Regions from separate parts of the Homo sapiens genome. Here region 2 is linked to region 1. The links come from fine-mapping of genetic effects on gene expression. A gene starts in region 1. The other region holds a variant in brackets. All regions are shown on one strand. Distances are between the middles of the regions.

What was found. PIP is the estimated chance that this variant, and not a neighbour inherited with it, causes the effect.
Region 2: its variant is fine-mapped to the expression of TMEM130 in tibial nerve (GTEx, PIP 0.91).

The regions. Positions count from the first base shown.
Region 1 is chr7:98,865,291-98,876,466 of GRCh38, reverse strand. It overlaps TMEM130 (transmembrane protein 130), which reads left to right and starts at 6,453. Exons shown (of 8, transcript NM_152913.3): 1 at 6,453-6,690. The coding sequence starts at 6,606. RefSeq lists enhancers at 6,383-6,968, 6,969-7,555.
Region 2 is chr7:99,092,911-99,104,086 of GRCh38, reverse strand. All of the region lies in intron 1 of SMURF1 (SMAD specific E3 ubiquitin protein ligase 1), which reads left to right. Among named protein-coding and RNA genes, the nearest start is that of SMURF1, 46 kb to the left of the region's middle. RefSeq lists enhancers at 366-1,565, 4,007-4,860, 4,861-5,715. The variant AAAAGAT/T (reference allele first, on the strand shown) is at 6,083.

The DNA.
Region 1 (11,176 bases):
TGAGGCGGGCAGATCACTTGAGGCCAGGAGTTTGAGACCAGCCTAGCCAACATGGTGAAACCCTATCTCTACTAAAAATACAAAAATTAGCCAGGCGTGGTGGTAGGTACCTGTAATCCCAGCTATTTGGGAGGCTGAGGCAGGAGAATCGCTTGAACCCAGGAGGTGGAGGTTGCAGTGAGCCAAGATGGCACCACTGCACTCCAGCCTGGACGACAGAGCAAGACTCTATCTCAAAAAAAAAAAAAAAAAAAGGATATCCCCGAACTCATTTTGCTCCCTCCAAGCTACTCCAGGATTTAGCCCCAAATGCTTCTCCCAGGAGCTGATTCTGAGTCATTGTTACCTGCCCAGCGGCCCCCCACCTCCCATAGTTAATTTCCAATGCAGGACAACGAGGATGTGTGGTAGGGATACGGACCCTAGGGCTGCTGCCCTCGAATGACCAAAGATTTGATTATACCACCTTGCTAGGGCCAACAGACCAACTAACACTAACTTGCTTTAGAAAGAGTTTCATCAACAAGAATTGACACCAAAGAAGTGTGAACTTTTCATTACCCAGAAAAATTTAATTAACCAAAACAGGCCACCGTCCCTCCCCCACCGCCCCCCCAGAGCCAGGCGAATGAGGTCTGACTGTTCACAACATCTGATCTGTCCCCAGGTCCCAGACCCTTACCTGTGGCTACTGTTCTGGACGTTTGGCCCCAGGCATTGCCTGTTAAGGCTGCCCTCAGTGTCTGTTCTGACCGATGCTCACCTCGCCAGGGGAGAGAATGTCCCCTCTGTGCTGCCTTGTGATCATATGAGATGGTGTCTGTGAAAGCAGTCCAAGGTCAGTCCAGAGAAGGCACCGACAAATGGTTTCCAACACCGAGTCATGTTCAAGGCTTTGGGGGCGTTATCAAGGGGAGGCCTCATCTTATTCTTTCAGCCATTCCACAAGCATCTACTTTGCACCAAACTACATGCTAAGTACCAGACACGCAGACACATGGCATAGGCGAGGATGCTGGGAGGAGGGTCAAAGTCACCCCGGTAAGAGGTATTTGTGGCCCCTATAGGCTAGACTGGGAGAATTTGTGGGAAAAAAAAAATGACTCTTGAGGCCGAACACAGTGGCTTATGCCTGTAATCCCAGTACTTTGGGAGGCTGAGGCAGGAGGATCACTTGAGACTAGGAGCTCAAGACCAGCCTGGGCAACATAGTGAGACCCCCATCTCTACCAAAAATCTAAAAAATTAGCTGAGCTACTTGGGAGGCTGAGGTGGGAGGATCATTTGACCCTAAGAGTTAGAGGGTGCAGTGACCTGTGAGTCACAATTGTGTCACTGCACTTCACACTGGGCAACAGGGGGAGAACCTGTCTCAAAAAAAAAAAAAAAAAAAAAAAGGAGGATGACCAGGAAGACTCTTGGGATGGTCAGACGCATTTGTACCCAGGCAACTTAGTGCTGTGCTTTCCACTTCAGTAGCCACTAGCCCCATGTGCAGTGTGGCCCATCTGAATGGAGATGAAATCTCAGCGTAAAATGCACACGAGATGGTGAACCCTTACAACAACAACAACAACAACAACAAAAAGGCTAGAGTGCAGTGGCACGATCTTGGCTCACTGCAACCTATGCCCCTCAGGTTGAAGAGATTCCTGTACCTCAGCCTCCAGAGTAGCTGGGATTACAGCACCTGCCACTGGGGTTCCCCGTGTTGGCCAGGCTGGTCTCAAACTCTTGGCCTCCTCTGCCTCGGCCTCCCACAGTGTTGAGATTATAGGCGTGAGCCACTGCTCCCGGGTTATTGATCATTTTTACGTTGATTATGTGTTGAGATGATATTTTGAATATGTTGAGTTTTGTAACAGCATTAAAATTGATTTCACTTATTTCTTTTTCTTTTTTGAATTGTGGCTACTTGAAAATTTAAAATTACATACATGGCTCCAATTCTGTTTCTAGCCAAGAACATTAATTTAGGAAAGCCAAGCTGCACTTGGTGGTGCACACCTGTAATCCTTGCTACTCTGGAGGCCGAGGTGGGAGGATTGCTTGTGGTCAGGAGTCTGAGACTAACCTGGGCAACATATAAAGAGACCCCTCTCTGAAAGAAAAGAAAAGAAAAAATAAAAGAAAAGCTAGCTCTATGGACTGGGCACAGTGGCTCACGCCTGTAATCCTAGCACTTTGGGAGGCAGAGGCGGCAGATCACTTGAGGCCAGGAGTTCGAGGCCAGCCTGGCCAACATGGTGAAACCCCATCTCTACTAAGAAATACCAAAATTAGCTGGGCATGGTGGTGCATGCCTGTAATCCCAGCTACTCAGGAGGCTGAGGCAGGAGAGTCGCTTGAATCCAGGAGGCAGAGGTTGCAGTGAGCCAAGATCGTGCCACTGCACTCCAGCCTAGGCAACATTTTTGAGACTCCATCTCAAAAAATAAAAGGAAAAGAAAAAAATGAAAAGGAAACCTAGCCTTCTGAGAGGATTTCCTGCCCCTCCCTTATCAGATACTCCCTGGAAGAGTGAAGCTTCCCAGTCTGCTATGGGATGGAGCAGAGATGGGTACTGTGAGGGTGGTGGTGGTGGTGATGGGATAAGAGTAACGCCTATGGAAAATCCTGGCCGGGCGCGGTGGCTTATGCCTGTAATCCCAGCACTTTGAGAGGCCAAAGCGGGTGGGTCACCTGAGGTCTAGCGTTCGAGACCAGCTTGGCCAACGTGGCGAAACCCCATCTCTACTAAAAAAAAAAAAAAAAAAAAAAAAAAAAATACAAAAAATTAGCCAGGCGTGGTGGCGGGTGTGTGTAATCCCAGCTGCTTGGGAGTCTGAGGCAGAAGAATTGCTTGAACCTGGGAGCCAGAGGTTGCAGTGAGCCGAGATCACACCACTGCGCTGTAGCCTGGGTGACAGAGCAAGACTCCGTCAAAAAAAAAAAAAAAAAGGAAAGAAAATCCTGGGTGGCAAACAGGAATTAGCCAAAGGGCTGGCCGGGTGCGGTGGCTCACGCCTGTAATCCCAGCACTTTGGGAGGCAGAGGCGGGCGGATCACGAGGTCAGCGGATCGAGACCATCCTGGCTAACACGGTGAAACCCCGTTTCTACTAAAAATACAAAAAAATTAGCCAGGCGTGGTGGCAGGCGCCTGTAGTCCCAGCTACTTGGGAGGCTGAGGCAGGAGAATGTCGTGAACCCAGGAGGCGGAGCTTGCAGTGAGCCGAGATCGCACCACTGCACTCCAGCCTGGGTGACAGAGAGAGACTCCATCTCAAAAAAAAAAAAAAAGGAATTAGCCAAAGGGTGGCATCAGCATCAATTTCAGGGTGGCCTTGAAGGTGGCTTCTGTAACACTGTGGCTACTGTAAAATTATTACTCAGTGAAATAAAGTTACACATTTTAGAAACAATACATCTTATGCTATTTGATACATTTTTAAAAAGCAGGAACGACCTGGCCTTCCAATTATGTTAAACCGTCTTAAAGATTTGCAACTCTGCAAGCTTGACTGTTTTCTTCTCAAGTGCTTCAAAGTCCTGCTGAACAAGCCAATTCCTCCCAAGTCCTTCAGCAATTCCCATTTGACACCCAACACTGATTGAACCCTTTACTATGTCCTAAGCTGTGTTCTACGTGTTAATTCCTTTTATCCTTATAATAGTCTCATGGTGTTGGGACTATTATTATGCCCATTTTAAAGAAAAAGGGGGACTGACATGGTGGCTCATGCCTGTAGTCCCAGCTACTCTGGAGGCTGAAGCAGGAGGATCGCTTGAGCTCAGGAGTTTGAGACCAGTCTGAGCAACCTAGCAAGATCCCATCTCTGTAAAAAATAATTTTTAAAACATTAGCAGGGAGGAAAGTGACTTCTCCAAGGTCCTGTAACTCTCAGGGAGAACCCAAAGTCCCCTTGTTCCTAGGCCTGGTATTTATCACCACCGTGACAGTTGATGCCACTAGGGGGTGACATCCGTCTAGCACTTTTTTTTTTTTTTTTTTGAGATGGAGTCTCATTCTGTTTCCCAGGCTGGAGTGCAGTGGTGCAATCTCAGCTCACTCAAGCTCTGCCTCCTGGGTTCACACCATACTCCTGCCTCAGCCTCCCGAGTAGCTGGGACTACACGCCCGGCTAATTTTTTGTATTTTTTTTAAGTAGAGACGGGGTTTCACTGTGTTAGCCAGGATGGTCTCGATCTCCTGACCTCATGATCTGCCCGCTTTGGCCTCCCAAAGTGCTGGGATTACAGGCGTGAGCCACCGCAACCGACCCCCCCAACTTTTTTTTTTTTTTGAGACGGAGTCTTGCTCTGTTGCCCAGGCTGGAGTACAGTGGTGCAATCTTGGCTCACTGCAAACTCCGCCTCCAGGTTCAAGCAATTCTCCTTCCTCAGGCTCCCAAGTAGCTGGGATTACAGGCGCCTGCCACCGAGTCTGGCTAATTTGTGTATTTTTAGTAGAGACGGGGTTTCACCATCTTGGTTAGGCTGGTCTCGAACTCCTGACCTCGTGATCCACCCGCCTCGGCCTCCCAAAGCGCTGGGATTACAGGTGTGAGTCACCATGCCCTGCCCTGTCTAGCCCTTTTAACTTTTCATAGGGGCTCACTCAAATCTATTCTCCCTCCATTCCCTGAACATAGCAGTGGGGCCAGTGGGGCCCATTCTTAGGGAAGCTCACAGCTGTCCCAGAGCCAGGGGCCCTTTAGACCAGTAGTCCCCAACCTTTTTGGCACCAAAGACAATGTTTCCACGAATGAGGGGTTGGAGGGATGGTTTCGGGATGATTCAAGCGCATTACTTTTATTGTATACTTTATTTCTATTATGATTACATACTCACCATCATGTAGAATCAGTGGGAGCCCTGAGCTTGCTTTCTTGCAACTAGATGGTCCCATCTGGGGATGATGGGAAACAGTGACAGAACATCAGGCATTAGATTCTCATAAGGAGCACGCAACCTTGATCCCTCACGTGAGCAGTTCACAGTAGGGTTTGCGCTCCTATGAGAATCTAATGCCCTGCTGATCTGCCAGGAGGTGGAGCTCAGCGTGGCTCACAGGCCCTGCTCACCTCCTGCTGTGCAGCCAGTTCCTAACAGGCTATGGACTGGTACTGGCGGCCAGGGGCTTGGAGACCCCTGCTTTAGACGCCTTGATGTCAATGCACTGGGTGGTGCAGTGATGGTCCATCCGTGCTCCACGGGCCAGAGAGGAGGTCAAAGGCCCTCACTGTGTGGGAGGATCCCTCGCCCAGGTAGCCGTAGCAAAGCGGAAGCATAGCTGGGACCAGAACCCACCGGGCTTCCAGCGTTTAAGGCCAGCCAGGCCCCTCCAGCTTCTAGGAGAGCCCAGCCCTGCTCCTCTAAGGCAAATGGCAGTAACTGTGTAGGCTGGTCACCCCTCACCGCAGTAGCCTGACTCCCACAAGGCCCTCAGTGACAAAGAAGTTGCCCTGGGCCCAGATACGAGCAGGAGCCCCATCTTAACAGCAGCTGTGAGAGGGTAAACCGGGGGATGACATCAAGCCCACGGCAGGGGCCGGGTGCTCAGGCCCCTCTATCAAGAAGGGGCAAGAGGCTGGGCACAGTGGCTTACACCTGTAATCCCAACATTTTGGGAGGCTGAGGCGAGAGGATCACTTGAGGCCAGGAGTTTGAGACCAACCTGGCCAACATGGTGAAACCCCGTCTCTACTAAAAATACAAAAATTAGCCAGGCCTGGTGGCGGGCACCTGTAATCCCATCTTACTAGGGAGGCTGAGGCAGGAGAATCGCTTGAACCCGGGAGGCGGAGGTTGCAGTGAGCCGAGATCGCGCCATTCTGGGACAGAGCGAGACTCTGTCTCAAGATTAAAAAAAAAAAAAAAAGAAAAGAGGAAGCAGCAGCAGCAGCAGCAGCAAGAGGAATTTCGAGGCCTTTCGCCCAACGCCTGGCGCACCTTAAGCTCTCAACAGTTCTTGAATGAGGAGTAGCATCTCGGAGCCACGAGCGTGCAGAGAGAAGGCACCTGGAGGAGAGCCCCAAGGGACCTGCAGGCGGCTTGCAGCGCAGCGCACGCCCCTGGGGACGCTGAGTCAGAGCCGGCGGCATCGGATCCAGGGCGGGGAGGGGCTCGGGGGAAGGGAAAAATGCGGGTGCGGGGGGCGTGGTTTCGGGTAGTGGAGGGGAAGGATGCGGCCGGGGGTGGATTTGGGGTGGGGAGGGATGCGGGGAGGAGCCAGGGCGCAGGAAGGGAGCTCTGGAACCCCTAGAGGGGAAGCAAGCTGGGAGGGGCGATCGTGGACTCCAGGAGGGCAGGGGGCGCGGCCGTGGGAAGAGACCCGGAGAGGGAGGACGCGGCCGTGGAGAGGGACGCGGGAGCAAGGGGCGGCGGGAGGAGGAGGAGGGCGCGCGGCGCGGCTGACGTGGGCCGGGGTCGCGCAGCGGGCTGTGGGCGGCGGCGGCGGCGCGCAGCGACAGAGCGTCCCCCGGCGAGGACGAGCGAGCACGGCGCCCGCACCTCCCCGCACCGCCCGCGCTGCGCGCCCGGAGGAGCGACCGCCGCAGTTCTCGAGCTCCAGCTGCATTCCCTCCGCGTCCGCCCCACGCTTCTCCCGCTCCGGGCCCCGCAATGGCCCAGGCAGTGTGGTCGCGCCTCGGCCGCATCCTCTGGCTTGCCTGCCTCCTGCCCTGGGCCCCGGCAGGGGTGGCCGCAGGTAAGGCGCTGGGCAATCCGGCCTCCCTGCAGCCGCAGCCCGCCCGGGGCCTGGAACCGTCTCAGCGGGCGAGTGGGCCCGGGAGCAGGGATTGCGGAGGTGGCACCGTGCGCCCTGCGCGCATCTCCCTCCTCGGCTGAGGCCACTGCAGCGCCCTTTCCCCTCTCCTTTCATCCTTGTTCCCCAAAGTCGCCTGGGCACTGGAGGGGGCTCCCCGCACCCCCTGGATTCCTGCTTCCACCCCCCCAGGCTGGCCCTGCCCTGGAAACCGCGCGGGGGTGGCCGGCGCATCCGTCGATGCCTGGGGACCATGCACCCGCTAAGGGAGGGGAGGACGAGGCAGGGAGGCGGGGATGCGCCAGGGTCCGTCATCGCGCCACAATTCCCCAGTCCCCCAGGGAGCACGGGATGGGCAACGTTTTTGCCTTAAAATGTCGCCTCATCTAGAGGGGTTTCCCACCGTGTTGGTGCTGGCTTTGGGGAGATGCGAATTTAGAGCCCAGGAGGCCAGGCTGCCATTTCCTCTCTGGTGGTGATTTCCAAAATGGACCCGGAGCTGACAGGTTCCTGGGGTGTGTGTGTGGGTGGGGGAGTGGGGGAAGCAGGGTTGTGTGTCTACTGCCCCCACTTCCCCACCGCCAGAAAGCCAGCACCCACCTCTCTGCCACATTTTGGGAACCATAAAAGGACCCAGATTTAAGACTATTCGAGGGACAGATGGGACGTGGGCAGCTAAGAAGGTTGAATACTATCCACCACTTTTCACCCCCTCCCCCCTCATAAAAGAGCGGTGGAGAGAGAGAGCAAGGGATCTAATGAAAATTTGTGAAAGAAAAACCATGAGGTCAAAGAAAACCTGCAACTCAGGGATGAATTAGACGAATTTTATGGGAATTGCACTTGGACAAGATTACCTATTTCCTCCTGGAAATACAGGAAAGGGGTCTCTTGTCCATCAGGTTGATTTGTGTCAGAGATTTTCAATGTGTCCTAAATTGCAAAAGAAAAAGAAAATAATAACAAAAGTGAATTAATTATTTGGAAATCATGTGTGGTTCCCATTCTAGCCAATTGCACCCTTGATGTGGTCAAAATCACAGTGGCTAAGAGTGGAGTTGGGAAACATCTTCTCCCTCACCCGTCGGGGAGACTTTTCTACCCTTCCCCTTTCTGGAGTCCATGAATCAGGGATTTGTAAGTCAGAAGTCCATGTACTGGACTATTAATTAATTCTGGGTTGTGTTATCCAGACTTTAGAGGTACTCTTTGGAAGTGTTTTGGGTAGTCTGCATATTCTGTGTGAAAGGACTGGTGTAGCCATTTTCTAGAATGTTCAGGGCTGCACATGCTGTGTTGCTGGAAAAGGTAGGTGTTTCTTCCATGGGCCAAGCTTTGGGGTGAGTGCCCCATCTCTTTTTGCTTTTGCCCCTTGAGCTCTGGGTGACTTGGGGGGCCCTTGGAGTCCCCTAAACCTCTGCCTTGGCTGCTCCATACCCCAACTCCATGTCACATGGACTCCCAAACATGGAAAGATGAATTTGTTTGTTTGAGATGCAGTCTTGCTCTGTCACCCAGGCTGGAGTGCAGTGGCACAATCTTGGCTCACTGCAACCTCCACCTTCTGGGTTCAAGAAATTCTCCTGCCTCAGCCTCCCAAGTAGCTGGGATTACAGGCGCCTGCCACCACACCTGGCTAATTTTTGTATTTTTAGTAGAGATAGGGCTTCGCCATGTTGGCCAGGCTGGTCTCGAACCTCTGGCCTCAGGTGATCCACCTGTCTCAGCCTCCCAAAGTGCTGGGATTACAGGTGTGAGCCACCACGCCGGCCTGGAAAGATGAATTTGGTGGGTAGAGCACCAGGCCCTGTGATTGGTTCCTTCAGCCACATTTGGCAAAGGCTTCCTGGTCCATTTCCACCCTGGATGTCCTGGCCATCCCTGAGACCCCTGAGGAACAGGGGCAGCATCACCCAGGGGCTGTGACACACCTGATTTTGAAAAAACAGACTGAGAAAAAGTGTCCTTGGAGCTGGCAGGTGGTGGTGGGGGAGTCGGCGGGCTCCCATGAGCTGGGCCAGTGTCTGCAGCAATGTCTGCAGCAGACACAGCCCCTCCCTGCCCCCCATCCCCCCTCCCAGTCCCAGCTGGCTGCCCTCCTGATCCATTCCCCTGGCAACCGATCTGCGTGATAACATGCGTCTGTCTCACTGCAGATGCTGTTTGGCCATTAGCATGCAGCCGAATGTCCCTGCTACCTGCCAGCCTCGCTCAGGCCCACGCTTCTCAGCTGGGGTGGCAGGGAGGGGATGGGGAGGAGAGGGGTGCCAGGAGTTAGGGGGATAAGGGAGGAGGTGGTCTCTCATCCATGCACCTCTCTGTCCACAGCCTGGCCAAATGCTGCCTCCCAGCCAAAGTGGGGAGGGAGAGCAAAGCCCAACCAGGGTAGTACAGACTGGTTGGGTGGCCTCAGGCAGCAGCAGTGACCCATGCGGGCTTCAGGTCCCTCAATATCATATACCCACTCTGTTTGCGTGGAAAAGCTCCCATCACAGCTTCTGGATTTCCCTCTTTGGGGTTAAGACACTGCAGGTCCCCTTTTCAATGCCAGCATTCCCTTGGAAGTGACCAGCTCTCGGCATCTTGACTCAAATGACTTGATTTTTATTTATTTATTTTTGTAGAAAGGGTCTCTCACTTTGTTGCCCAGGCTGAAGGGCAGGGGCGCCATCATAGCTCACTGCAACTTCAAACCCCTGGGCTCAAGAGATCCTCCTGCCTCAGCCTTCCAAGTAGCTGGGGCAACAGGTGCACGCTACCATGCCTGGCTAATTTTTAAATTTTTTTTTTTGTAGAGAATGGGTGTCGCTGTGTTGTTCAGGCTGATCTAAAACTCCTGGGCTCAAGTGACCCTCTGGCTTCAAAGCGCTGTGATTACAGGTGTGAGCTGACTGGGCCCGGCCTCAAATGCCTTTATAATTTAAGAAATGGCTCTGAAAAAAAAGGAAATACGTGATGTGGGCCAAAGCAGCGAACGTGTGAGGTGGGCCTGAGGAAAGGTCGGAGCTGGAGTCCCCCACAGGGACAGGTGATGTTGCTTTGAAGTGAATGAGATGCGTCTGAAAAAAATAATCTCAGAGTTGCCTGGGCACTAGAAGGGGCTTCCCTTGCCCCCTCGATTCCTGCTTCTACTCCCCGGGCTGGCCCTGCCCTGGAAACCACACGAGGGTGGCCCACGCATCCGTCAGATGTCTGGGGACCATGTACCTGCTAAGGGAGGGGAGGACGAGGCAGGGACATGGGGATGTATCAGGGTCAGTCATCGTGCCACAACCCCCAGCCCCCAGGGAACACGGGATGGGCAGCATTTTTACTTTAAAATGTTGCCTCATCTAGAGGGGTTTTCCACCCTGTTGGTGCTGGCTTTGGGGAGATATGATTTTATTTGATTTATGTATTTATTTATTTGAGATGGAATTTCGCTCTTTTTGCCCAGGCTGGAGTGCAGTGGCGCAATCTCGGCTCACGGCAACCACCATCTCCCAGGTTCAAGTAATTCTCCGGCCTCAGCCTCCCGAGTAGCTGAGATTACAGGCGTTCGCCACCACACCCGGCTAATTTTGTATTGTTAGTAGAGACGGGGTTTCGCCATGTTGGCCAGGCCGGTCTCAAACGCCTGACCTCAGGTGATCCACCCACCTCGGCCTCCCAAAGTGCTGGAATTACAGGCATGAGCCACCGTGCCTGACCGAGATGCAATTTTAGAGCCCAGGAGGCCAGGCTGCTATTTCTTCCAGGAGTGATTTCCCAAAATGGACCTGGAGCTGACAGGTTCCTGGGGGGACTTGTGGGGGGACCTTGTGCCCACTCGGTCGTGCATCTACTGTCCCCACATCCCCATCGCCAGAAGGCCAGCACCCACCTTTCTGCCACATTTTGGGAACCATAAAAGGACCCAGATTGGAGACTTGTTGAGGGACAGGTGGGACGTGGGCAGCTAACGGGGTTGAATATTATCCAACAGTTTTCATCCCCCTCCCCCCTCATAATAGAGTGGCAGAGAGAGGGTAAGGGATCTAATGAAAATTTGTGAAAGAAAAACAAGGTAAAATAGTTGAAATAGTTGAAAACCACAAGGTCAAATAGTTGGCCTTTCTTTTTTTAAATTTTTTTGAGACAGTTTCGCTCTTGTCGTCCAGGCTGGAGTGCAGTGGCGCAATCTTGGCTCACTGCAACCTCTGCCTTCCGGGTTCAAGCAATTCTCCTGCCTCAGTCTCCCGAGTAGCTGTGATTACAGGCGCATGCCACCACACCTGGTTAATTTTGTATTTTTAGTAGAAACGGGGGTTTCTCCATGTTGGTCAGGCTGATCTGGAACTCCTGACCTCAGGTGATCCGCCCGCCTCGGCCTCCCAAAGTGCTGGAATTACAGGTGTGAGCCACCACGCCTGGCCAGCCTTTCTTGTTGAAAGCCCAGCAGGTCTCCTGT
Region 2 (11,176 bases), 230 kb before region 1:
TGTGAAACCCCATCTCTACTAAAAATACAAAAATTACCCAGGCGTGGTGACGCACGCATGTAATCCCTTGGGAGGCTGAGGCACGAGAATTGCTTGAACCCGGGAGGCAGAGGCTGCAGTGAGCTGAGATCGCACCACTGCATTCTAGCCTGGGTGACAGACTGAGACTCCATCTCAAAAAAAAAAAAAAAAAAGTTGTGGCCCGGAGATATCCATCACAAATTGCTTTTCATATATGACAAGAAAATTTCAAAAATTGTCTCCATCAATATATGAATTTTCTCTTTGAAGTTTTGTGTCCTACTGTGTGTGTTTATTGTAGACAGGACAAGCAATTTCCATCATTGAAACCAGAAAACATCTTTGGAATTTTAAACTCAGTGTTGCTGTATTTTGGGGATTACATAAAAGCATTGATAAAATAAGTTGTGCTTTAAATGGAAGATTTAAATCTGTGAAGCTTTTTAAGATTGTGTTTGTCACGTCTTGGCACACATTTCTTGTTTGTAGAGTCTGGTTATGAAAAGACTCTGGTTTCCATATGTATATTTAAAATACTCTGAGTCATGGATTCAAATGAGTAATTGACATAATATGTCCATCAGATTCCTGCTTTGTCATACCGTCACATAAGGGGAGTACATTTATTTTAGTAATTGTAATAGTAAACACAGTTAATTAGCAAAATGGTATTCATTTTAAATACCTTTCCCCGGTGTCTTTTATAACTTTCCAGAAATTGCTTTATTGGAATGAAAATGTGTTTGATTTCACAGGAGGCTTAGGAAAAGGGCCACATGTGTATGAACACAGGCGTATGTATACAGTGCTGGGAGTGGTGTATACATAGGTGTTTAGAGATTAGAAGCTCCATGTCTCTATTTCTTCCTCCTTTTTGCTAAGTCTCAACTCAGAATCTGAAACCACATTGATTGTAAGATGTACAATTACATGTGCCACCAAAAAAGAAAAAAAATTGATTGTAACCGGGTGTGGTGGCTCATACGTGTAATCTCAGTACTTTGGGAGGCTGAGGTGGGTGGATCGCTTGACTCAGGAGTTTGAAACCAGCCTGGGCAACATAGTGAGAACCTATTTCCCCTAAAGATAGAAAAATAAGCCAGGCATGATGGCACGCACCTGTGGTCTCAGCTACTTGGGAGGCTGAGGTGGGAGGATCGCTTGAGCCCTGGAGACGCACTGCTGTACTCCAGCCTGGGTGACGGAGTGAGACTGTGTCTCAAAAACAAAAAAACAAAAAAACCAAAAAAATGCAGTTGTAAGATTTACAATTACGTGCACCACCAAAAGAGAAAAAATGCTATGAATCAAATAATGTTGATGCTTTCTAATTATCTATAACCTTTACTTATAACATTGAAAGAGCCACTTATTTAAGTATAGATTTTTTGCATGTGTTATTCTTGTATATACATAATTTAAAAGTATAAGAAAAATAGATTAAGGAATTCTTAACATTTCTTCACAGTCAGTGTCCATCTCTTCTGAATCATCCGTTTGACACAGAATCAACAATATTTGTATTTTCACATAATGAGTAATCAAAGTGTTGACAAGGCAGCTTTTCTGGAAGAGGGCTCTGTAAGTTTTTTTAAACAGCTATATTAAGATAGAATTCACATACCATATAATTTGCCCCTTTAAAGTGTAAATATCAGTGGTTTTGGGTATATTCAGTTATTCATTTTGTAAATTTGGCAAAATACACATTATAAAATTTGCCATTTTAACCATTTTAACTATTGAGTGGATAAATTCTCTTTCAAAACTCTTTAGAGACAGATGCGTAGGATATTAATATGTACAAAGAACAACAAAATATTGAAATAATTTCATCATAATATTAGGGAGATTTTAGAATGTATAAAAATATAAAAATTCCATGTTACTATGTATAGGATCCTATTTTACCTATCTTTTATATATAGTACAAATTTAAGTGGAATCAAAATGTGTAATCCTAGTATGCCCATATAAAAGGGTAGCCAATATACAATGCCTTGTCTTTGAAAATTTCAAATGTGCATCATAATATCACATTAAAAGTCTTTGAATGTGCCTAGACATGGAAATGCAAAATAAGAAAAATGAAATTATTCCCTTGTTTTGTATGTATCTTTTTTTTTTTTTTTGAGACGTGGTCGTGCTCTGTCGCCCAGGCTGGAGTGCAATGGCACAATCTCGGCTCACTGCAACCTCCGCCTCCCTGTTCAAATGATTCTCCTGCCTCAGCCTTCCCAATAGCTTACAGGCGCACACCACCACGCCTGGCTAATTTTTGTGTTTTCAGTAGAGATGGGGTTTCACTACAGTGGCCAGGCTGGTTTCCAACTCCTGACCTCAGGCGATCCGCCTGCCTCGGCCTCCCGAAGTGCTGGGATTACAGGCGTGAGCCACCATGCCCGGCCGTGTGTATCATTTTTTTCCCTTGAGGGTGAGATTAAAATGTCTAGACCTTTAGATGTGGAATTCCCACCTCCATTTACGAAAAGTGATTACACATTGGGCAATAAATTAAATCTATTTATTGTGTTTCAGTTTGAAATTTAATTGTGCATGTCTCTGGTAGGGTATTTTTTTGCTGTTTAAATCTCTGCTCCAAATATGAGCCAGGAACACTGTAGCTCAGTTTTAAAATTAGTAGAAACTGCATGTTACATGAATGGAACATTCTTTTTTGTTGTTGTTCTTTTTGAGACAGGGTCTTGTTCTATCACCCATGCTGGAGTGCAGTGGTGCAATCATAGCTCACTACAGCCTCGAGCTCCTGGGCTCAAGTGATCCTCCCACCTCAGCCTCCTGAGTAGCTGGGACTACAGGCACACACCACTGCACCCAGCTAATTTCTGTATTTTTTTGTAGAGATGGGATTTTGCCATGTTGCCCAGGCCGGGGATGGGACATTCCTTTCACTATTCCCTACCCCCCCATATTTCTTCAGAACTTAATAATAGTTTTGTTCCTTATCAAGAACCAAGTTCATTGGTAGCCTCCCAGAAAACTGGATTCAGTTCTAAAATGAAGAGATGGCTGGAAAACTTATCGAATGCATTTAAAAATTGGTCACCTTTTCCTCCATTTAAGAAAAGTCTCAAAATCACTTCATTATGTATAGTGTTCTTTTCTCCACCTTGCTTATCTCTGAAACACTCTTTCTCGGCTTTGGATTTAAAATTTGGTAAGAATTATTGTATCTCTCTTTGACTCTGAATATTCTTGTTGCTTTGTAAGATGTATATGTCTAAATTTCATCTCTTCACTTCACATCATGAAATCTTCCTTCTCTAGTCTTCTGTTTTAAGTCTCAGTTTGACTGTTGATAGAATGTTTCCAGTATTAACTTATAAGCTATGACTATGAGTTGATAACTGTTGTTTTAACAAAGATACAAAATTTATTCAAATAAATCTGCTTTAGTCTCCTGGGAAAGCTGGATATATATTTCTGTGATGTTGGGCTGAGAATTCTGAACTGCATTTTTATTTTTATTTTTTTATTTTTGTTTATTTTTCAAGATGGAGTTTTGCTCTGTTGCCCAGGCTGGAATGAAGTGGTGCGATCTTGGCTCGCTGCAACCTCTGTCCCCAGGTTAAAGCGATTCTCCTGCCTCAGCCTTCTGAGTAGCTGGGATTATAGGCGCCCGCCACCATGCCCAGCTAATTTTTGTATTTTTAATAGAGACGGGGTTTCACCATGTTGGCCAGGCTGGCCTCTAATTCCTGACCTCAGGAAATCCACACTCCTCGGCCTCCCGAAGTACTAGGATTACAGGCGTGAGCCATTGGGCAGGGCCGGAATGGCGTTTTTAAATTGAAATTAACTGCTGGATGCGTTCTTACTTTCTTACTAGGTAGAGTACAACATCTTTCCTTTTGCTTAGTTTATATTGTTAAAAGTATATATTTGGCATTCTGGGGTCAGAGCATTTTGCTTTGCAGCTTTTTTTTTTTTTTTTTTAACTTTTCCCACTAAAGGTTTTAAGATTACTGTAAATGTGATAAGATGAACACACACAAAAAACCTGTGAGAACCAGGATTCTCCGGGGATTTGACTGTATATTTGGAATGCTGTGAAAGGCACTGGTGGCTGTCCTAGTTCGTTTAGAGTTGCTGTATCAGAATACCTGAAACTGGATAGTTTATAAAGTAAAGAGGTTTATTTAGCACATGATTCTGGGGGTTGGAAAGTTCAGGACTGAGCATTTGCATCTGGGGAGGGCCTTAGACTGTTTTAACTCATGTTGGAAAACAGAAGTGGAAATGATGTGTGCAAAGAAACCACATGGCCAGAGAGAGAAACCAAGGAAGCCAGACTCTTCTGAACAACCCACCCTCTTGGGAATGAATCCATTCCGTGAGAGTGAGAACTCACTCCCGTGGGAAGGCATTAATCTATTCATGAGAGCTCCACCCCCATGACCCAGACACCTCCCAGTAGGCCCATAGGCCCCACCTCCCACCGCTGCCACAGTGGGGATCAAATTTTAACATGAGTTTTGGTGGGGACAGACCAAACCACAGCAGTGGTCTTGCCAGCGTGTACATGATAATGGCATTTCCCCCCCTATCCTGGGAAAGGAATTACTGCACGGACCTTAGAAAGCAGATAAACCACTCTGTAAGAAATTAGGTATTTTCTTCTTAGAATCAATTCAGTTCAGTGTTACTGTTCTCTTTTATGTGTTAGACCCTGTGTTAGATACTGTGGAGTGACAGCAAAGCAATGTAAAACCTCCCTCGACTATTGAAACAGCCACCAAAGAGGTCAACTTCCTGCCTCCTGCCTCTCTCCATTCCTTCTCATTTTCTACTCCCGTGCCAGAGTTTATAGCTTTCCAAAAAAAAAAAAAAAAAAAGTAGTAGTGTTTGGCTCCTCATTGCCTCCAGGGCAAAGTCCAAATTCCTTAACATTGCATAGAAGACCTTTTCTCATCGGGCTCTAGTCTCCTCTTGTTCCTGAACCAAACCTTCCATAGAAACACATTTCCCTGAATGCATTCTGCCTCTCAAACATGTCTTTACACATGTTCTTTCTATAGAATGATCTACTCCCTAGTTACTCCTTCTTGTCTTCCCATCACAGTGTCTTCATAACGCTATTCACATTATTTATTTCCTTGTCTTTGCTGCTGCCAAAGATGAAAGGAGGGATCTCAATCATTTCCATTCCAGGGCCTGGCACAAAGCGCTTATTAAATGTTGTTTTCAGTGAATGATGCAGAGTAACCTCCTTAAAGGATCTTATAATTTAATGAGGAGGGAAGATGATCAGAGGGCCGAAAGTCACTAACATGTGTCTGAATGGAAATAGTGTATTATTCAGCTAAATTCTGCAGTTTCCCTTGACCAGACATAGAACAAATATAAATCTGTCCAGTTTTAGTTGCCCCATAGCTTAGTGTTTGGTGACATTTCTCAGTGCACTGTGGTGCTATTTTGTATGCTGCTGTTCTTTGTCAATGAAGCTCCAAGCAGAGGGCTTGTGAATACGGAGCTAAGGTTTGTTGCAATGGGGAAGAAATATGAGTCAATTAGTGATGAAAATGAGAAAATGCACTGTTCGATATCATAGGCATGATCTTGTCAAATTGAAAAAAGTTCTCTTTACACTGTGAGACCATTCTGTCTTTTGTTATTATATGCATACTTCTCTCTCTTTGATTAGAGTCATTTTTTTTCCCTCCCAGCCAGTTAACATGTTCATAAACAGAGGTCCTTCTAACTCAGTTACCTTTTGTAATGCCCATAGGAAAATGCTCATTTTGGGGTTAAAATCTTATCGTCTCCCCTGCTTCCATCTCAGTTTCTTTACCTTACCAGAAAATTAGGTAATTATCTGTTAGATTTAAAATGTGAGGATCAGATTTAACTCCTGAAATAAGGAGAAGGGTGTAGATGATTTTGTTTATTCTTATAGCAAATTTAGCTTTATTGTAGAATTACTTTATAATAATTTACTAATTGGGATTTTTTTCTCCGTTTTATGTGTTTTCAATAAAAGCAGTTCTTGATGTTGACAGTGAAAATTTTGCTGGTGGCTAACTTGGGTTTTGTCTGTTGA[AAAAGAT/T]CTTCATTTTTCTCTTGATTCTTAAAAGCTATTTTTGCTGGGTAGAGAATTCTAGGTTAGCAGTTATTTTCTTGAAGATATTTCTGTCTTCAAATCTTCACTGTGGCATTTCAGAAGTTGGTCACTCGTACTTGGAAAGTAATCTTTCCTTTTTCTGTGGCTGCATTCAATATTTTTATCTTTGTATTTCACTTTCTGCAGTTTCACTGTGAAGTAACCAGGTGTGTATTTCTTTTCATTTATCCTGTTTGGGCTTTTTGAAGTGCATTACTGTCTTCGAAGCCATTCATTACTGTCTTTGTTTTGTGTTGCTATAACACAATACCACAGGCTGGGTAACTTATAAATAAAAGAAGTTTATTTCTTACAGTTCTCGAGGCTGGGTAGTCCAATATCAGGGTGCTAGCATCTGGCAAGGGCCTTCTTGTGGCGTCATTCCATAGTGAAAGATGGAAGGGCAAGAGAACATGTGTGAGAGAGAGAGCAAGAGATTGAACTCACAGCCTCGAGCCCTTTTTTAATGTCATCAATCCATTCATGCGAGTAGAGCCTTCATGACCTAAATATCTCCCATGAGGTCCACCTCCCAGCACAGTTGCATTGAAGATGAAGTTTCCAACATTTACTCCTTGGGGTGCACATTCAAGCCACTGCAATCACTGTTGAAAATTCGGAGCCGTGACCTCTTTCACTGTTGTTTTTGCCTCATTCCCTCTCTCTCCCCTCTTTTTGGTACTCAGTGAAGCTCAAGTTAGAGTTTATGATTGCAATGGTTCATTCTGCTTTCCTTTTAAAATTTCTTAAGGTAGAAGCTTAGATGCCTGATTTGCAACTTTTTTCTTTTCTAATAAAAACATTTAATCTTATAAATTTCATTCTAAGTTTAGCTGAATCTCACAAACTTTTTTTTTTTTCTTTCAGTTCAAAATATTCTCTAATTTCCTTTGAGACCTTCCCTGTCACCCATGGATTATTTAGAAGTGTGATGTCTACTATCCAAGTGTTTGAAGATTTTCCTGTTATTTTTTCACATTGCTTTCTAGTTTAATTCCATTATGGTCAGGAACATACATCGTATGACTCTAGTCCCTTTCAGTTTGCTACGATTTCTATTATAAATGTTCCATTTTGTACTTGAAAAGAATATGTACACTGTTGTGGTTGAATGGAGTATTCTATAAATGTCAGTTTGATCCCGTTAGTTAATGGTGTTCAGTTCTTCTATATATATCCTTGCTGACTCTGTCTACTAGCTCTGTCAATTGCTGATTAGAGTTTTTACGTCTCCAGCTGTAATTTTAGATTTGCCTCTTTCAATTCTGTCAGTTTTTGCTTTATGTATTTTGATGCTCTATTGTTAGGTACAAACACATATAGGATTGTTATATCTTCTTGGTGAATTGACCCTTTTATTATTATGTACTGTCTTTCTTTATCTCCCACACTTTTCTTTCTCTGAAGTTGAATATTAATATAGCCATTCAGGCTTTCTTATGATTAGTGTTTGCATGGCATATCTTTTCCTCCCATGTGAGTTGCAATTTCGCTGGTTCTTTATATGCTGAGTAATTTTGGATTTTATCCTTGACATTTTGGTTATTATGTTCTGAGACTCTGTGTCTTGTGTAAATACTGTGGAGAATATTGACGCATTTGTTTAGCAGGCATTGACCTAGTTGAGCTCAGGGCATGTGTTCTGTTCTAACTAGCCTTTTGCGGGTTGTGGTTTCAATGTCACTTGTTTTCAAAACCTTTGCAGTGCTATTTGTTACCTGTCTGTATTTTACCAGGTGGCCACCTGGAGCCTGGTTGGTGGTTTACCCCATGATTTAGGCGTCCTGGTCATTTGTAGGTGAAAGTTGTTCACAGTAGACCAAGGTTTGAGATTTTCTTGGTCACTCAGCTGAGGTGAAGCTGGGCTGCTGTCTGAACTTGTACCCTCAAGGTGCTGCCCCTTTGAAGGTTAGCCCACACTGATAGGTAATGCCCCAGGACCCCATTCTTGGAAGTTAAAGGACTCCAGCCCTCATCCTCCAGACTCTAAAAGGACTCCTTTCAGCAAATGTGACCCTAGGGCCAAAAAAGCAGCTGGACATCTGGGTTTTCTCCAGGCTCAGGCACTGATCTCAGGCTTCTAGACTTCAGAACTGTGAGACGATACATTTCTGTTGTTTAAGCCACTGAGCAGATGGTACTTTGTTATGGCAGCCCTAGCAAACTAATGCTAAGTGCGCAATTCTCATCTCCCCCAGGCCCCCGTGGCTAAGTTGAGATCTTTAAGAAAACATATTCTTTTAGGTCCTTAAATTTAACTTCGAGTACCTAGTCCATTGCCTGTGCATAGGAAGTAGGCACTTGATAAATACTCACTGGTGTTTCTGCTGTGATGGAAAATTTATGTCCCTGAAAAACCATACATTCTGCACAACAATACACTAAAAATAATAAGTGTCTTGTGGGAAAAGTAAGATTATAGCTGGTCTCTCAAAATCATTGCAACTTGGTAACTACTAGCAAAAACCATAATTGCTACCTTAAGAGATTATCTGGACCACCCAAGCAGGCATCTCAGTGTGGCTGGATGTTGCTAAAATGGATACTAAAATATACAAAAAAACAGTCCGCCTGCGGTGGCTCACGCCTGTAATCCCAGCACTTTAGGAGGCTGAGGTGGGTGGATCACCTGAGGTCAGCAGTTCAAGACCAGCCTGGCCAACATGGTGAAACCCCGTCTCTACTAAAAATACAAAAATTAGCCGGACATGGTGGCGCATGCCTGTAATCCCAGCTACTCGGGAGGCTGAGGCAAGAGAATCTCTTGAACCTGGGAGGCGGAGGTTGCAGTGAGCCGAGATCGCGCCATTGCACTCTAGCCTGGGTGACAGAGTGAGACTCCATCTCAAAAGTAAAATAAAATAAAATAAAATAAAATAAACAAAAACAGCAACATGGAAACCTGGCAATGCTTGAATTGGTACATGGGCGGTGGATGTTGAGACAGTGCACACAGAAGTGGAACTCTGAGCCCTGGGCCTCCTGTGATAGTGGCCATTGATGGAGCCAGTGCAGGTAGCCAAACTGAGGGAGCCTCTGGCTGGCTGTGGGTGCGCTGTCTGGGGAGTGGGACCCAGCTGTAGGCTGTTTGACAGCGTGGCATAAAATAATTTTTTGCATGAAACTTTTAGTCATGAAACTGCAAAACTGCTTGGGACTTGGGTGCCATTTCTAAAGGGCTCTGACAATTTGGCAATGATTTAATGTCATTATAGGGTGGTTGCTTTGTTCTTAAAATACAGCTTCTTGCTAAGGCCAAGTTAGGTGACAGTTTTTTTTTTTTTCCTTTTCTTGCCTAAGATTTTCATTTCACTCCCTCCACTTTTTTGCTTAGGAAACTCTCAAATGAATCAGTGTGACTTCCATGCTATAAGATGTCACTGCTACTTACCAATCAAACATGAGCTCATCTGTGTTACAGAAGCAGAACAGAACAGATGGTATTTGAATTAAGTTGAATTCCCTTTTGTACTGCTTATATTCATTTGTTAGTCTCCTGGGCTTATGATAAATTCAAGTGACTTCAGATGTATTGAGTTAGCCAGAGCTGTATATTTAAAATTACCTGTGGAGTTATTTAAAATTACCTGTGGAGTTATTTAAAATTTAAGTTGATATATATTGCCCTAAACTTGTTCAAAATTTGAATTAATTCATTGAAACATTCAAAAATTGAGTGTTTTCAATTAATAGAGACATTCTCTTTGTGATATAGAAAGCTATTCGTTGTTCTTGTTGACTTTTCTTTCTTACAGAAGAGGTTGTTTATAAATTTTTAGTGTGATCCTAATTGTATTTCTAATATTTTTGGTTTGGTTCCCTAAAATAGTTAAGGTCACTTTTAGGTAACAATTAGCGGACTTTAATTTTGACCATATATAGTTACACACACATCACGCACACACACAAATACAGTTTCAAATAATTTCTTTTAATTGATTTCAGTCTTGTTAATCTTGTGCGTAAATTTCAACTGAGCTATTAATGACACCTACGACTGACTTTCATTATTTGTTAGTTTTGAAAATTCAAATTAATATATTACAACATAGAAAGTCTATCAAATCTTGAACATTTAGATTGTAAAGCTTTTTGTTTTAGCAAATTTACTTATGATCAATTTATAATTGAAGAATTGGCTTCTAATCCCATATATAGTTTTTTAAAATTGAAATTATATATATATAGAAAAGTGCATATATAGAGTGCCATACTTTGTCATAGGTTAAGTTTTCTAAATAAGGAAAGTGTCTTAAAGAGAAACTCTTTATACAAGGAGGAAAGTAGTCATAAACTATTCTTAGTTTGGCATAAAATGATTTTTTTTTTTTGCATGGAAATTATAGGCGTAAAACTGCAAAAATTGCTTAGGACTTGGGTGCCATTTCTATAGGACTCTGGCAATTTGGCAATAATGTAATGTCATTATAGAGTGGTTGCTTTGTTGCATTTTATTGACTTTTTAGTGATAAATTCCAGGAGAATCTTTATTTTCCAGGATAAAACTCAATGTGGCGTTAATCCTTTCCATTTTCTCACCTCCTTTGTGTAGCTAGAGCTGAAAGCAAAGTAGGAGAGTGGCTTTGAAAAGGAAGGAAAATAAATTTGACAATGATCAAAAACGCCAGGCTGAAGGCAGCTTTTAATGTGATTAACCAGTTTGTAATTCATTTTTGGGAAACATTTCCAGAATATAACAATTTCAGAGAACACGAAACCTTCTTATAATTCTGGAAGTGGGAAGGAGAGAGGAACAGTGTGTGTTTTTGTGTGTGGCTTGCATTCTCTCCTCCGTTTTTGGAGCAGCGTGAGATTATTGCAATGCTACATTTCCTCCCTCTGCGCCCTCCTACCCCATCAATGTCTCATGGGTGGTGTGATATAGGCTATGGGAGTGAAGACCACTGGTGTTAGTCTGTGTATAGTTCCTGGGGTGTGGCGAGTACCAGCTCTGACAGCGGAAGAGAACTATACTGTTGATTCCCATTATTCTCAGTAGGTGTGTTCTATAAAATTGCTGCGAACACCAAATTA